2 linked regions of the Homo sapiens genome follow. The protein of the gene in region 1 purifies or fractionates together with the protein of each later gene. This does not show direct contact. Each region holds a gene or a part of one and is shown in the gene's direction. Other genes may lie near its edges.

The links. Proteins that work in one complex are often made in the same cells at the same time.
Region 2: the proteins of ADORA2A (region 1) and GRM5 purify together in Homo sapiens (affinity purification with western blotting; one study listed by BioGRID). This does not show direct contact.

Annotation. Positions count from the first base shown.
Region 1 is NC_000022.11:24,440,228-24,442,857, forward strand, and holds the end of ADORA2A (adenosine receptor A2a), read left to right. Parts: intron 1-355; coding exon 356-1,262; 3' UTR 1,263-2,130; downstream 2,131-2,630. UniProt on the Homo sapiens protein: Receptor for adenosine. The activity of this receptor is mediated by G proteins which activate adenylyl cyclase.
Region 2 is NC_000011.10:89,045,483-89,048,982, reverse strand, and holds part of GRM5 (metabotropic glutamate receptor 5 isoform a precursor), read left to right. Parts: intron 1-910; 5' UTR 911-1,110; coding exon 1,111-1,771; intron 1,772-3,500. UniProt on the Homo sapiens protein: G-protein coupled receptor for glutamate. Ligand binding causes a conformation change that triggers signaling via guanine nucleotide-binding proteins (G proteins) and modulates the activity of down-stream effectors.

The DNA of each region.
Region 1 (2,630 bases):
CCCTTTAGAGAAAAATCATGTTTTCCCCCTCAAAAAATCATGCGTTAATTTCCTCCAACCAAACTAAGTCCCAGGACTACTCCGAAAACTACTCAATGACCATCTGGGCATTTGTACATGGGTTTCCATTTCTTGGATGCCTGCTCTCCTGTTACCTCCCAGAAGCCTGTGAAAAAGGCAAGGCATATTACTTCCACTTAACGGAAGAGGATGCTGGGGCGAGGTGGCAGGAAATGACTGGTCCAAGACCTTACAGTCAGGAAATGTGGAAACGGGTGCTGCTCTGGGGTTCTGAACTCTTGGCCCTGCTTAACCCTGGCTTCTCAGATCTCTGATGCTGGTCTCTTCTCCCCAGGTACAATGGCTTGGTGACCGGCACGAGGGCTAAGGGCATCATTGCCATCTGCTGGGTGCTGTCGTTTGCCATCGGCCTGACTCCCATGCTAGGTTGGAACAACTGCGGTCAGCCAAAGGAGGGCAAGAACCACTCCCAGGGCTGCGGGGAGGGCCAAGTGGCCTGTCTCTTTGAGGATGTGGTCCCCATGAACTACATGGTGTACTTCAACTTCTTTGCCTGTGTGCTGGTGCCCCTGCTGCTCATGCTGGGTGTCTATTTGCGGATCTTCCTGGCGGCGCGACGACAGCTGAAGCAGATGGAGAGCCAGCCTCTGCCGGGGGAGCGGGCACGGTCCACACTGCAGAAGGAGGTCCATGCTGCCAAGTCACTGGCCATCATTGTGGGGCTCTTTGCCCTCTGCTGGCTGCCCCTACACATCATCAACTGCTTCACTTTCTTCTGCCCCGACTGCAGCCACGCCCCTCTCTGGCTCATGTACCTGGCCATCGTCCTCTCCCACACCAATTCGGTTGTGAATCCCTTCATCTACGCCTACCGTATCCGCGAGTTCCGCCAGACCTTCCGCAAGATCATTCGCAGCCACGTCCTGAGGCAGCAAGAACCTTTCAAGGCAGCTGGCACCAGTGCCCGGGTCTTGGCAGCTCATGGCAGTGACGGAGAGCAGGTCAGCCTCCGTCTCAACGGCCACCCGCCAGGAGTGTGGGCCAACGGCAGTGCTCCCCACCCTGAGCGGAGGCCCAATGGCTATGCCCTGGGGCTGGTGAGTGGAGGGAGTGCCCAAGAGTCCCAGGGGAACACGGGCCTCCCAGACGTGGAGCTCCTTAGCCATGAGCTCAAGGGAGTGTGCCCAGAGCCCCCTGGCCTAGATGACCCCCTGGCCCAGGATGGAGCAGGAGTGTCCTGATGATTCATGGAGTTTGCCCCTTCCTAAGGGAAGGAGATCTTTATCTTTCTGGTTGGCTTGACCAGTCACGTTGGGAGAAGAGAGAGAGTGCCAGGAGACCCTGAGGGCAGCCGGTTCCTACTTTGGACTGAGAGAAGGGAGCCCCAGGCTGGAGCAGCATGAGGCCCAGCAAGAAGGGCTTGGGTTCTGAGGAAGCAGATGTTTCATGCTGTGAGGCCTTGCACCAGGTGGGGGCCACAGCACCAGCAGCATCTTTGCTGGGCAGGGCCCAGCCCTCCACTGCAGAAGCATCTGGAAGCACCACCTTGTCTCCACAGAGCAGCTTGGGCACAGCAGACTGGCCTGGCCCTGAGACTGGGGAGTGGCTCCAACAGCCTCCTGCCACCCACACACCACTCTCCCTAGACTCTCCTAGGGTTCAGGAGCTGCTGGGCCCAGAGGTGACATTTGACTTTTTTCCAGGAAAAATGTAAGTGTGAGGAAACCCTTTTTATTTTATTACCTTTCACTCTCTGGCTGCTGGGTCTGCCGTCGGTCCTGCTGCTAACCTGGCACCAGAGCCTCTGCCCGGGGAGCCTCAGGCAGTCCTCTCCTGCTGTCACAGCTGCCATCCACTTCTCAGTCCCAGGGCCATCTCTTGGAGTGACAAAGCTGGGATCAAGGACAGGGAGTTGTAACAGAGCAGTGCCAGAGCATGGGCCCAGGTCCCAGGGGAGAGGTTGGGGCTGGCAGGCCACTGGCATGTGCTGAGTAGCGCAGAGCTACCCAGTGAGAGGCCTTGTCTAACTGCCTTTCCTTCTAAAGGGAATGTTTTTTTCTGAGATAAAATAAAAACGAGCCACATCGTGTTTTAAGCTTGTCCAAATGAGAATGGCGTCTGAGTTCGTTTCCTACTCCATAGCTAGGCCTGTGCACACATACAGGCATGTGTTGTGTATGAGAGAGTGTGTGCGTATGTGCAGACACCCTGCCTGCCCCGGGGGCCCTCCCCAGGGTCCTGTCCTCGAGGGGACAGGCTGCCTGGCTGCACCACAATCCAACCTGCATTTCTATGAGGGCCCACAGGGGCTATGGGAGAAGGGGCTTTCCCCAGCAACTCCCCCCCTCCTTATCTTCCTACATCTTTAAGGGAAGATCTCTTTGTATGTTACCTTCTCAGAACTGTGACCCGCCACCTGCCCTGCTGCACCCTTTAGCAGAGGTCACAGAGGTATCCGCAAACAGATCTGGGCAGGGGCTACACGGCCTTCCCCTAGAATCCCCCTCCTTCTGTTCTTAACAAAAGAAACCCAGAAGGAAGGGGTGTTTTTGCTCTGACCCCGGCCTTAGGGGCCTCCTGCCTGAGGAGGTGGTGCCATCTTTCTGTGA
Region 2 (3,500 bases), on another chromosome or scaffold:
TAACTTGTAAAGCGTTTATTTCGTTGATATCTTGTATTGATTCCCATAAGGGACAGCCTAGCACATAGTATCCCCATTTTTCAGGTGAGCAAATTCTGGTACCAAGAGGTTAAACAGTTTACTAATACTTCTTAATATAAGAACAGGGATTGAAATGTGAATATTCTTTTCTCTAAAAATTGGTGCTAATTTGACTCTTCCTTGCAGCCTATTTGGGGGATGTTGTACTCTATAATTCCCCAACCTTTTCCTTTCTCTTCTACAGTTTATTTAACATGAAACACCCACCTTTCTTCATTTGTTTTTATTATATCTTCCACATTAATTAGACAATACTTATTTATTCCTGAGAAGATTATTCAACTTGCTTGACATTGTATTTGGAGAGAGAATATGTGAGGTATTTTTGAAAAGATAATTTTATTTTTGTAATTGCATAATTAATTACATGCTCAAGGCTAAAGATTTCAAAAGAAAAGAAAGCCTAATGAAAATTTAACAACAGTTATCCACACTTTCATTACCAAGAGATCACCAATGTTTAATATTCTGGGGTGCATACTTCTTGAAGTTTTCTGTTCATGGCGTAGTTTTGCTTCTAGGATGCTCTGTCATCTCTGCCTGAGATTACAATACAGTTCTGCCTGCCACACTCAAGATTTAGTTTTGTGTATTGCAGGTGAACAAAAAAAGACTATTAATCTAAGCAAGGCAGGGTCAAGAAGCTACATCAGCTGCTTCATCAAATCACAAAGGAAGCAGACAAAGGAAAGTCAGAAACGTTTTTGAATTTTTTTTCTTCGTTATCTGCATCATCAAAATATTTTCTCTGCTAACATGGATTATAGAACTTCCCCAAACTAGTTGCATTTATGTTTGTTAAAGACCCATGTTATTTTTTTTTTTTCAGGTTTAGAAGATCATGACCACATGGATCATCTAACTAAATGGTACATGGGGACAAAATGGTCCTTTAGAAAATACATCTGAATTGCTGGCTAATTTCTTGATTTGCGACTCAACGTAGGACATCGCTTGTTCGTAGCTATCAGAACCCTCCTGAATTTTCCCCACCATGCTATCTTTATTGGCTTGAACTCCTTTCCTAAAATGGTCCTTCTGTTGATCCTGTCAGTCTTACTTTTGAAAGAAGATGTCCGTGGGAGTGCACAGTCCAGTGAGAGGAGGGTGGTGGCTCACATGCCGGGTGACATCATTATTGGAGCTCTCTTTTCTGTTCATCACCAGCCTACTGTGGACAAAGTTCATGAGAGGAAGTGTGGGGCGGTCCGTGAACAGTATGGCATTCAGAGAGTGGAGGCCATGCTGCATACCCTGGAAAGGATCAATTCAGACCCCACACTCTTGCCCAACATCACACTGGGCTGTGAGATAAGGGACTCCTGCTGGCATTCGGCTGTGGCCCTAGAGCAGAGCATTGAGTTCATAAGAGATTCCCTCATTTCTTCAGAAGAGGAAGAAGGCTTGGTACGCTGTGTGGATGGCTCCTCCTCTTCCTTCCGCTCCAAGAAGCCCATAGTAGGGGTCATTGGGCCTGGCTCCAGTTCTGTAGCCATTCAGGTCCAGAATTTGCTCCAGCTTTTCAACATACCTCAGATTGCTTACTCAGCAACCAGCATGGATCTGAGTGACAAGACTCTGTTCAAATATTTCATGAGGGTTGTGCCTTCAGATGCTCAGCAGGCAAGGGCCATGGTGGACATAGTGAAGAGGTACAACTGGACCTATGTATCAGCCGTGCACACAGAAGGTAAGTTTCCTTTGCATACATCGAGTATATATTATTATGCACTCAACAGTTACAATTTCAGGTTTGGGAAGAGTAAACTATTCCTAATTATTTTGGATATTTTGAATTGTCCGAGTTATACCAGTACTATAAGAACAGACTGGATGGCATATATCTAGAGAGACAAAGACTTAAACTACAGAAGGGTGTATGTGGCCAATATTTGGTGAAATATAATTTTGTTTTCATTGTGAATTACATTATTTACTTCTGCTATACTGATGCTATATTATACTTCTACTCTAATGATTTTTTATATTCATTACTAGAGGTTTTCAAGTCTCTATATCTTCATTGAACACCTCATATTTTTGTCATTTCGCGATTGTTCTAGGTGCCTATTGTTTCTAATAGTTAAAGCAAGGTACACATAAATACACATAGGATTGAAGGTAGTAGCCAGTTCTAACCTAGGTGTGTTGTTATAGAGAATTACCAAAAAGTTTGGTCTTACAGCTATTTTTTCAGAAGAATTCATGGTCAAATCCAAAATGGAGATAAGAATAAATTAATTTTATCCTTGTATAGAACATATTTGAGAAGTATAATTTTAAATAATTCAACATGTTTGTTTTAAAATTTATTGCTTCTTTGTGCTCCAAGAATAGTGAGGAAAGAAAAATCTGACTGATGTTTTATAATAGTTAATAATAAGTAGCCCTTTGTTTTTTATGGTGTTTTAAAAATCATTAGTTCTTGACCATGGCTGTTTGGAAAAAATTTGTTTTGACCTACAGAGGTTGTGACCCAAATGGGCAGACTCGCTTGTTATGCAGCTCTTCTTCTAGAAAAAAAAAAATGTGTATATTAAACACTATAGAATACTGAAGAAGATACAAAATACTTTTTATAAATCATCGAATTATTGTATTTGTTGAGATTCTTAAAATTCTGCATTAACATATCAATATAGTCCAAATATTTCGGTCTGGTAAAATGTGGAATTAAGTTACTAACCCCACTTCAGAGGTTAGGAATATATTTATGCAACACATATTATGCACAAATACATATGCAAGGCTCTCTGACCGTCCTGTGAATGATAGCCCTTTGTTTTCTATATCACAGACTTCAGTGGGATTGCAATCTGGCAAAGGAGATGAGGCATGCACAAATACTTACATAATCATAATTCAAAATGACACAATGTTACAAATCTGACTCTAAAGGAAATTGATGGAGAAAAAAATCACCTCCTCCTCTGTGGTTATGGGGGTCATGGTGGGAATCTTACAGAAGGAAATGGAATTTGACAATTGAAATTTAACAAGAAGAATACTGACAATTGGTGAAAATTAGCAGGGATGGCTTTCAGTGAAAAGCATAAGAAAATATGACTAGGTGAGAAAGTAAAAATGTGCTTGAAAAGGCCAATTGTAAAGGTATGTTTTGGTTTGCATCAAATAAATCATGCATTTTATTAGGGACTCCCTTCTAGCTTCAGAAGATCAGTGCTTGGTCACGGTGTGGCAAGTGCTAATTCAATTGTGCCCCAAGTGAAACTCTTAGTCATGACCTTTGGCTTTTACTAGTTTAAACTGTTGTTTTATCCTAAATTTACCCCAATAACAATCTAATAACCTAATAAAATAAGTTATGATGTATTCAAACAATGCATTATCATTTAGCTATTAAAATAAGTGAGACATTCTACTAGGTAATGATTATAATTTCCAAGATCATCTTAGGT